Regions from separate parts of the Homo sapiens genome. Here all the other regions are reported to be linked to region 1. Evidence: microRNA targets listed by miRTarBase, many of them from high-throughput screens and not tested one by one. Region 1 holds a microRNA gene; each other region holds the end of a gene's coding sequence.

Evidence for each region. The annotated mature microRNA hsa-miR-4257 reads CCAGAGGUGGGGACUGAG and lies in region 1 at 2,429-2,446, shown strand. An mRNA with a match to its seed (bases 2 to 7 or 8) in the 3' UTR can be bound and repressed. Matches are read on the target gene's strand: a 7mer-m8 pairs with bases 2 to 8, a 7mer-A1 pairs with bases 2 to 7 and ends in A, and an 8mer does both.
Region 2: miRTarBase lists TMOD2 as a target of hsa-miR-4257. The part of its 3' UTR that is shown has no 7-base or 8-base seed match.
Region 3: the mRNA of EBF4 is a reported target of hsa-miR-4257. Seed matches in the 3' UTR shown: 7mer-A1 at 1,970-1,976.

Annotation. Positions count from the first base shown.
Region 1 is chr1:150,549,559-150,552,807 of GRCh38, forward strand. It overlaps MIR4257 (microRNA 4257), which reads left to right and starts at 2,371; the gene lies at 2,371-2,456. It overlaps ADAMTSL4 (ADAMTS like 4), which reads left to right. Exons shown (of 19, transcript NM_019032.6): 2 at 264-337; 3 at 2,647-2,750; 4 at 2,985-3,042. The coding sequence starts at 2,731. LOC124904417 reads left to right here and starts at 732. Exons shown (of 1, transcript XM_047438226.1): 1 at 732-1,792. The coding sequence starts at 732. The coding sequence ends at 1,502. All of the region lies in intron 5 of ADAMTSL4-AS2 (ADAMTSL4 antisense RNA 2), which reads right to left. RefSeq lists enhancers at 1,056-1,745, 2,235-3,104.
Region 2 is chr15:51,808,103-51,811,351 of GRCh38, forward strand. TMOD2 (tropomodulin 2) reads left to right here. Exons shown (of 10, transcript NM_014548.4): 10 at 318-3,249. The coding sequence ends at 352. Among named protein-coding and RNA genes, the nearest start is that of TMOD3, 20 kb to the right of the region's middle.
Region 3 is chr20:2,758,291-2,761,539 of GRCh38, reverse strand. It overlaps EBF4 (EBF family member 4), which reads right to left. Exons shown (of 17, transcript NM_001395167.1): 16 at 2,556-2,631; 17 at 1,432-2,272. The coding sequence ends at 2,561. Among named protein-coding and RNA genes, the nearest start is that of CPXM1, 41 kb to the left of the region's middle. RefSeq lists an enhancer at 1,556-2,206.

The sequences.
Region 1 (3,249 bases):
CCCGCCCCGCGCGCCCGCGTCGTCCCCTCTCCCTGCGCTGTGCGGTCGCGACCCCGCCACGACCCCGGACCCAGCTCCGGTGGCCTCGGACAATCTTCCAGCCCCTGGGGTCGAATTCCTGGGGAGGGAGTCTGATCCCGTGGAACTCTGGCCCCATCACCCGGGCGGGGAGTGAACCAAAATTCCTCCTAAGTCACATAGTAAAGTTGGAAAACAGACCCATGACCTCCCCGCGCGGCCGGTGCCTCCTGCCCTCTCTCTAGGAGGGTGCTCTCGGACGGTGTGTCCCCCACTGCACTCCTGAACTTGGAGGACAGGGTCGCCGCGAGGGACGCAGGTGGGTGCCCTTGATCCAGCTCAGCCCGATGGCAGAAGAGGTTGACAAAAAAGAAAGACACCTGTTGGGGTGGCCTGCCAGACCCAGGAGTGGAGGGCTCTGAGGGCCCGGGAATTCGGACTCAGGACAGGGATTCTCCATGGCTAGGCCCAGAAACACAGGGTCCAACCACTCTCCAGCAGGGAGACCTGGGGGTGAAGGGGTGAGCCCTGCGCAGGTCTCTGTTCCTTGGTCTTCACTGGGCAGTGTGGAGAGGTGTGGCCAGGAGGAGCCCGCGTTTGTCCAGACCAGGGTCTACTCTGGCACCAGAGTGACCACCTCTGACCTCTCCTTTCCTCGTCCTGGGCCGGGAACGACACCAAATGAGGGACATGGAAAGGGGTGAGAAGCATAAATGTGCGTGTGTTTCTGCAGAGGAGGGGGCATGGGCCCCTGCCGGGCTGCGCAGGGGAGGGTGGGGTGGGACTTTTCCAGAGAGGGAGCCAGGCCTGGCCCGGGCCCCGGGAGCTCACGTCACCCCCACCCCTCACTTCTCCAGGGAACTGCCAAAGCCAAACCCAGCTCGGGATGGGATTATGTGTACTGGGTAGACCCGTGGAGAGGGGCTGCGAGAAGAGATCTCGGTGGCAGAGAGAAGCAGAGGCAGAGAGGGCATGAAGAGGGGTCGGCATCAGAGAAGGGGCAGGCAGTGACTATCACCCCATTTCTTCTTCCCTCAGCTGGAGTAACAAGAGTCAGGCAGAGCCTGAAGACTTGGGTGGAACATGGGCCCTTCTCTGGAGATCCTGGCCTCCCCCGTTCAGTCAGGGTGGAGTTGCTGACCTTAGTGGCCGGCCCAGCCAGGGGAAGGAGTGGCCATCGGCAACCCCCACCCCAACCCCAATCCCTGAGGCGCCCGCTCTGGCTCAGCCACTCTGACCCCTCCCTCAAATTCCGAACCCTAGGTCTCAGGGAGGGCAGTGGGGCTGAGTGTCTGCCCCCAGGCACATTCCTACCCTTCTCTTGGTCATTTTCTGCCCCAGAGCTGGCCCACCTCAGCAATGCGAGGGCTCCCTGGATTCCTCTCCCGGGTGCCTTTCAGATCCAACAGAAACAGATTTTTTTTTTCCTGGAAAGCAGAACTAAGAGTGGGATGAGGAGCAGGGGTGGGAAGGACTCAAAGTGAGAAGAAGGGGGCAAAGAGAGTCAGGCTTGGTGGCTGGGGTGGCTTCCAAGCCTCACTTCTCCAGTGTTCAAAGCTGAACTTCAGATGGACTTCCCGGCTCTTCAGAATGAGAGGCCTGTGGCTGGGGCATGAGGCAGCCCCGGCTGCACCTCTCCTTCCCGCTTCCCCAGCTGGTAGAGACGCACAGGAAACAAGCCCTCACTGAACCAACTCCAGATGCTGGCACCCAGAGTGGGTGTTACATTGCCGGCTTCTTCTCTAGAGATTAAACCGTCAACCCATTTAGCTTATCCCTTGGCCAAAAAGTGTATGAGATGTGCCTGGATGTTCCCTAAAGAGCTTATCTAAGAAGGGAAGAGAAAGCCGGGAGGCAAGTAGGACAGAGAGATGACTGGGGAAGGTCTTGTGTCTGGAAGACCCAAGGAAGGGGCTTCTGGTGGGTCCTCAGAGAGAGTGTCTGGCGCATCCTCAGTGGAGCCTTCCTCCTCTACTTTCTAGGCACCTCTGGGAGGGCAGGAGTGGGAGCAGATGACAACCATTTTAGAAGGAGCCCTCTGGCTGGGTGCGGTGGCTCACACCTGTCATCCCAGCACTTTGGGAGGCCAAGGCAGGAGAAGCGCTTGAGGCCTGGAGTTCAAGACCAGCCTGTGCAATTTAGCTGGATCCCATCTCCACCAAAAAATACCAAAATTAGCTGGGTGTGGTGGTGCACGCATGTAGTCCCACCTACTCAGGAGGCTGAGGAAGGAGAGCCTGTGAGTTTGAGGCTGCAATGAGCTTTGGTGGCACCACTGCCCTCCAGCCTGGATGACAGAGTGAGATCTCCATCTCAAAAAAAAAAAAAAAGCCTTTTGTGTGTGCCTGAGCCGGCTTAGAAACAGTCCCTAGGTAGGATTTGGGGAGGAGCTAAGAAGCCCCTACAGGGCCCAGAGGTGGGGACTGAGCCTTAGTTGGAGGGCTGAGGTCAGCCCCTGACCATGTAGCCTCTACAGATGGACAAGGCAGTGATCCTCCCTGCTCCCACCCTGAGGATCCTAAAGGGATGGACCAGTTTCACCCCCTCCTCCATATTCTCTGAGCTGTCCTCCCAGCCCCAAGCTCTCTGGACACTGGAGAGGTAACCACCAGGCTTCTGTCCCTGCAGAGAGCACCCTCCACGCCCAGATGCCTGCGTAGTTTTTGTGACCAGTCCGCTCCTGCCTCCCCCTGGGGCAGTAGAGGGGGAGCGATGGAGAACTGGACTGGCAGGTGAGAGAAGGGGCCACGGGTTGGGGGGGAGGAAAAGGGGAGGTGCTGGGATGGCTCTGTGTCTGGAAGTGAGGGAAAGGGGACCACTGGGAGGGGCAGGGGAAGTGATGAGTAACTTCTGCTTTCTGAGAAGTTGGTAGTCAGGATATGGGAGCCGGCTGGGGGCGGAGGGCAGTGTTGCAACACCCCCTCTGGCTCCAGTCTGACGTCCCTCCCCTGGCCTTTGGTTTGCAGGCCCTGGCTGTATCTGCTGCTGCTTCTGTCCCTCCCTCAGCTCTGCTTGGATCAGGAGGTGAGTTCTGGACAAGTGAGCAGCTGCAGCCTGCCTGCCACCCTTTCATCTCCCCCTAGGCTCCCACCCCATCTCTCCAGGCCACGCCTCCATTCCCCACAGCCCACCCACCTCCCCTGCCAACTCCCCAGTTCCTTGCCTCATAACACCAAGAGGCCGAGGTGTAGTTCTCCCTCTGCTGCTGAATGTGACCTTGGACTGGTAGCG
Region 2 (3,249 bases), not on the chromosome of region 1:
GCCGTGGATAAACGGCCATGAAAATAGTCAAAGTGCACTGTTTCACGGGTCTCTTCTGGAATTTCTATCCCATAGAAATTCGAAGGTTCTAACACTCGAGTACCCAACTATCAGACATATATGTATTTAAATGTAAATTCCACCAGACACTGGATGAATTTATCATTTCCATTGATTGTCATGGTTAAGTATTAAAATTTAAGATAACTGTATCCTCAAGTGTGTGAGATTGTCATCTTATGTGATTAATGTTGTTTATCTGGAATTTAAGGAATATCCCTTCAATTTGTCTTTTTGTTCCTTTCTTTCTTACCTAGTTCGTAAGAAGAGAGTTGAAGCAGACCGAAGGTAAACTTCCTTGAGGAGAAGTGAAGTTTCACTGTGGTATGGCCATTGAAAAACAAAAACTCTTCTTCTTCCCCATCAGGACCATTTTATCAAAGTTCGTTCATTTCCGTTAACCACATAACTAATAATTTAATTGTTATTCTTTTTTAGCACTACTTATTTATCTTGGATTTTGTAATATATGCAATTGTTTTATTTGCTCATGGGCACTTCTGGCAACTTGACAAATGGACCGATGCAGATTTTAGAGAGTGACGACATGGAAAATGAATTTAACCACTTTCTTATTGGGTTGTCTTGCTTTCTTACATGAACTTGTTTTTTTAATCACTGAAAGGAATTTAGTGTATAATATGTGTTTGTAACTGTGATTATGATAGAGGCCTATCTCTGTTTACATGCATAGCTTTGAGTTAGGCTAAATACATCAGAAGTGTTCTACTGACCACATAAGAAGTTAGTATTGCCAATCTTTCACTGCATGTGAAAATGTGACCAATTTAGCACAAATTCTCTCTTAGTTCCAGAAAAATCAGTAAATGCACATGCCCTGTTGATTGGAGATCAGTAGTGTCATCTTCATAAAGCAAGACAACATTATGACACTTTAAAACAGTAGCAAAGAAGTCTATTTATTAACCCACAAATGTAGCATCAAGCCAGACTCACAGGTAGCAAAATGAATTACACACCTACTTTTACTGACTATTCAACATAAATTGAATCTTTAACATGACTTTAAAGGCTATTTACAAAGCTGTTTTAAAGTTTTTCAAACATGATAGAAATTTTCTAAATTTTAGTAAGAGAGAAGCTTTTAAAACAGTACATTCCTGAATAAAACAACAATATTGTATCTTAATCAAGGCTGTCTGATGCAGATGATTGCATTTTTTGGCAAATTTTAGAAGCATTTATTGCTTTGTCTTTAGTGTAACAAGATCACTGGATTAAATATAAACATTCAGGTTAATTATCTAGATTTTTGTCCACAGTATATGATCCATCCAGACATTTGCAAACGTCAGGAGAAAAATGTGAATTATTTATCCAGATGCATGTCATCTCAAGGACAAAGCCTGTGAAAGTACAAGTGAGATGGTTGCATTGTAGTATGCATTAATCTTTCAATGTAGTGGTGTAAAAATGCAGTGCTAAACTAATGAAGCAGGTGACTGCAGCCTTTGGCTCAAGCTCACAACTCTGATAACTGTCAGTGCCTGAGGTTGTGATTGGTGACATTCTGACACTGCCCAAGGCAACTCACCCTCTATTCCTCCTTTCTCCCCTCCCTTTCTTCCAATTCATTGTCTTTTTTTTCCTCTTTTCTCTGTAATTTGTTACTAAACAAATTCCAGAATTTGTTTAGTAGCTGAGTGTTCCTGAGTTGCCTAGTAGCAATAAAACAAGTGAATAGGAAAATAATTAATATATTATTCTATTTAGCTTGTAAAACACATGGAATCTGTTTAAGATAGCCCTTGTAAAATTGAACATTTACCTGTATTGTAAGTACCCACATCTGTGTCTCTGAAGTCCTTTGAAACATCTCATTATCTTGAAATTTTTTTAATGTTTGAGAACACCATAAGCAGAATATTCTAACACCTTTGGCCCCTGAAAATCCTTTAATTAGTTTATGGCTTCATCTCCTTATCTATTTAAAAAACATAGTAAATAATGTTTATGGTTTTCAGTCTGATTTTTCCTTCCCTTTCACCCATTTAGGTGTGATGTGTTGGAGTCAACTTGTACAGGCTTGCCAACTGTTATATTTTCAAGAATTTTGCAAACTGGTTGTTCAATACAGCCATTATTTAAAATTAAATGATGTGCACTTACAACTGAATGAATTATATTAAGGACAGAAGTAACAAATACTGTACTCAAAAATCTTACATTTTACTATTTTCTAACCTCTTAGATTATTTACATCTAGTAGGTATGTATGTAGAAATATTACCAAACAGTATGCTACTGAACGTATCCTCTCAACTCCATGTTCACTACCTTCTTGTTACTACAGTGGCTTGAAATTGGCCATGGTAGAAATATTTACACCACAGAAATTAGCAATATGTAAGAAATTGGGGTTTTCTCCCTCTCCAGATTGCTGGTTGATAAACATTCATCAGCACACCACTGGGTGAAATTATACATTTTTTTATACATATGTTTCGCTTATCATGTTGCCGAAGGGAAGAACATTTCTCTTAGATGTCTTTTCTCCTCTTTGGATTTGTTACAAACCTGTTTAAGTGCTGAGTCCCTGACCTGCCTCTCCAAGTAAGCCTTTTTCCTTTTTTTTTTTTTTTTTCTTACTCTCATTCTTGCCTTGACTCTTAAAATCCTGGACCCTATAGAGCATTCCTTGCAGCCCCACAGTGCTGTGGGCTGGGGGCTAAAGCAGTTCTTGGCAAACTCTGGCAGAAAGCAAGAAAAAAAGAATCAGAATTCAATCATGGCTGTTTCTTTTGTACAAGCAGTTGTTGATAGTATTAAAGCAAGATAATGGGACATTATCAAAAATATAGCACTGTTTTTACCTTATGAAATAGTTGGGTTGCATGCAACAGAGTCTATGAAATCAAATGTTTTTTACTAATCAGTTTGTTTTCTTATTACCTGTGTTTTTAAAGTGGCTTGAAAGGTGGCATTTCCATGAGTGTGCACATATTGATGATAACCCTTAGAAAAACATACACTTGAGGAGCCTATCCATCATTTAATTAGCCTAGGACTTCATCTCCCTCTCTGCCCAAAGTGTGGAAGTGGTAGCTCTTTCATGATCATGGGCACAGTTAATCCTTTGCTATCCATTGTGATGGGGCATAATGTATATAAAATATTTTTCTATGTATTTGTTCTGCCAGATACTGTGTTGAGATATTTGGCAATATC
Region 3 (3,249 bases), not on the chromosome of region 1:
GTCCTTACCTGACAGAGAGAGTGCACTCTGGTGTCTCTTCCTCTTCTTATAAGAGCACAACTTCTATTGGATCAAGACTCTACTCTGATGACCTCGTCCAACCTTAATCACCTCCTTAAAGGCTCCATCCTCAATACAGTCACATGGGAGGTTAATGCTTCAACATATGGATTTTAGGGAGGCACAATCCAGGCCATTGCAAACATGGTAACTGGTTAGCTATGTCTGCTGTGGATGAAGGAAAAGGACAGTGTGGACTCAAATGGTGGCTTGAGCAGCATTGTGGGATTGTTAGGGACAGACATCATGTCTCATTTATATCCACCATGGCACCTGACCCATCCTGGGAACCAGAGTGTGACCACTATCCAGTTATCACCTGTGTCCAGTGCAGATTAGAACTTTGCAGGGCCTCAGCTGGGAGGGCCCTGGGCAATGGGAGCTGCTCAGAGCCAAATAAAGCAGGGCGTGGGCAGGCAGGCTTTGGTGCTCTGAGTGGGAGGCCACGCAAGCACTGAGAATGGGACAGGATGACCAGAAGGCAGCATGACCTCTTGCCCTGTGTCCAGGAGAGATGAATCCCAGGTGCTAGCCAAGAACACCAGAGAAAGAAGTAGAGGCCTCTGAAAGACAGGACCAGCCCATGTGCCCTGGCAAGTGTGCCTGTCCAGAAGGCTGCATTTGCAGGTCATGGACGCATGGGTTGAAAGGGCCAGGGTGTCCAGAGGCCAGAGCCCAGGAGCAGGGCCAGGAAGAGAAAGAGGAAAGCCTGAGGCCTGGGGCTAGACACGGGGCTCACCGGATCATGGGTCAAAAAAGTGGCTTTCAGGGTCAGACAGCCAGACCATCATCCAGGGGACATATCTCAGGGGGACAACTGGGACTCATCCTAGAGGGGTGGGTGGTGGAGCGAATGGGCATAGGAATCTTGCCTCCTTACCCTCCTTCCACCCAAACTCTGAGGCAGGTGAGCCGTAAGGTGCCTAGGCCTGGGGGTGGGGGCCGTGGGATGGGATTGGGGTGCAGCTCAGATAAACAGCCCTGGGAGCCACAAGCTGCCCCACCCAGCCCAGGCGTGGCCCTGCAGCCTCTGTGTTGGATTGGATCTAATTTCTGAGCCTCTGGACATCTGGGTCATATTTGGTTTGGTCTGTCCTGGTTCTCAGCAATGTCCTGACAACCACCACTTTGATCTTGACTGGAGAGCTGGGCAGCTGAGTCCTCAGTGGCCCTATTATGCTCCCAGGCAGAGCTCAGGCCTGCTAGCCTGCTCCCCCTCCCCCAACAGTCCCCAAGAACAGACGTGGGGCAGGGAATACTTGCTTTAGTCGAACTCTGGGGCTGCTTAAAAAGCCCGAGGCGCAAGAGGGCTCCCCGGGGGCAGGGTTTGGAGCCTCCCCTAGAGCTGCTGAACTGCTAAGAAAAGCAAACTCACACCAAGGAGGCAGGTGAGAGGCCGGGCGGGCACCACCTGCATCTGGTTTATTGTTCTGTTTTCTCCAAACTTAGCAGAGCAGAATGTGAGGCCACCTGGGGGGCGGCTGGGCCCGCTGCGTGGGGCCAGCCAGAGTCATTGTGAGTGTGTGGGGCCAGAGTCCATGAGACATCCACTGGGGGAAGACCCCAAATACAGGAGGCCTGGCACCCCCTCTTCTGCCTCCTCCATGCCCAAAGCCCCCACAGGGAGGCATGATGCGGCAAGCATGAGAGTGCAGGTCTCAAAGGAAGTGGGGGCAGCTGCGGGGCCAAGCAGCTGTTGGAAGCTCCACGGGAGCCTGGGCAGGCCTCCCGAGGCTGCGGGGCGCCACCCTTTCGCTGCAGAGAAGTTGGGATGCTGGGCCAGTTGAGATGGGTCAGATGCAAACAGGACCTTTCCAGGTCACTTCTCCCTGAGCTGTCCTCTTTCCCACGGTCCCCATCCCACGCTCCCCTCACTCAACAACCCTGGTCTGCACAAGATCCATCTCTTTCAGAGGAACCAAGACCCAGACAGTGAGGCCCAGAATCCCAGCACCTCCCTGCGATGCTGTCCTGCCAAGAGCATCTGCACAGTGCTGGGGCTTCTGACTACCCCAAGACAGGGAGGCGAGAGAAGCCTGTGGGGCTGCTAGCGGGGAGGCTTGAGCATGGGGTGAAGGCCTCTCCCCGTTCAGCTCACGGGTTGAGGTCCGCCCATGGCCCTGGCCCTGCATCTGTCTGTGCCACCATCCGGGGTGTGGCTGTGAATCCCAGAGGGACCTCCAGTCCGGGCTCCATGGGAACAGCTGCAGACCTGGTGGGGCGAGAGAGGGAGAGAAGAAGGTCGGGGAGGAAGGCTGGCTGCCAGGGGACAGGAAGCCACTTCTCTCTACCTGGTCAGCTTGGGTTACTGGGGTGGGCCAAGTACCTCAGAAAGCTGTCTAGATGGGCCCCGGGGAGGAAGACTTGGACCCCAGCTCCCCATCCCTGTGGGGCTGCTAGCGGGGAGGCTTGAGCACAGGATGAAGGCCTTTAGAGAGCAAGCACATCTCAGGGCCAGGTGGGGCGGGGGAGGCCAGACCCAGCCAGAGACCTACCGTAATTAGGAGTATGCCAGGCCCTGAAGCCCCCGGGCTGGAGAGTGAAACTTGTCAGAATCCTCAAAAGACTGGTCTGCAGTAGTCAAGGAAAAAGGAGCCATAAGCCATGTGCCACCTGGGAAGCCACCTGCCTGTCACTCTCTGGGCTGGAGACAGCAGGCAGGGGATATAGCACTTTCTGAAGGCAGTCAGCCATCCCTAGCCCTGGCCCATGGCAGCACTGCAGATCGGGGTGAGGGGTGCCTCTCAGATGCTCAGGGGATGCAGCCCACGCCCTTGCTCCCTACCTCCCTCAAGAGAGAGACGACCCCAGGCTCCTTCTCCCAGGGTGGCCTCCTTCAGAGGGCCCATCTGCTTCCTCAAGCGCATGGCCATGTACCAGGGCAGAAAAGGAAAGAGGCCAGCCTCCAGGAATACTGACTGACATACCCACAACAGCATCCTCTGTGCCTCCCACACCTACGAAGTTTGTCACTCCACCACTCCCCACCCCTACCTGACCCCCTCCCATGGTTCTCTTTGCTGGCAGGAGAAATTGGTGACCCTCTGTTCTCTCCATCCTTCACATTCTAAGCTCCAGACACACCTAAGAAAAATTATCCAAAACTTGGAAATAAGGCAAAAAAAGTGACTGTGTATCCTTTCAAAGCCACCGTAGAGCATTATCAAATAAGCCCATCTTAAGAGTCAT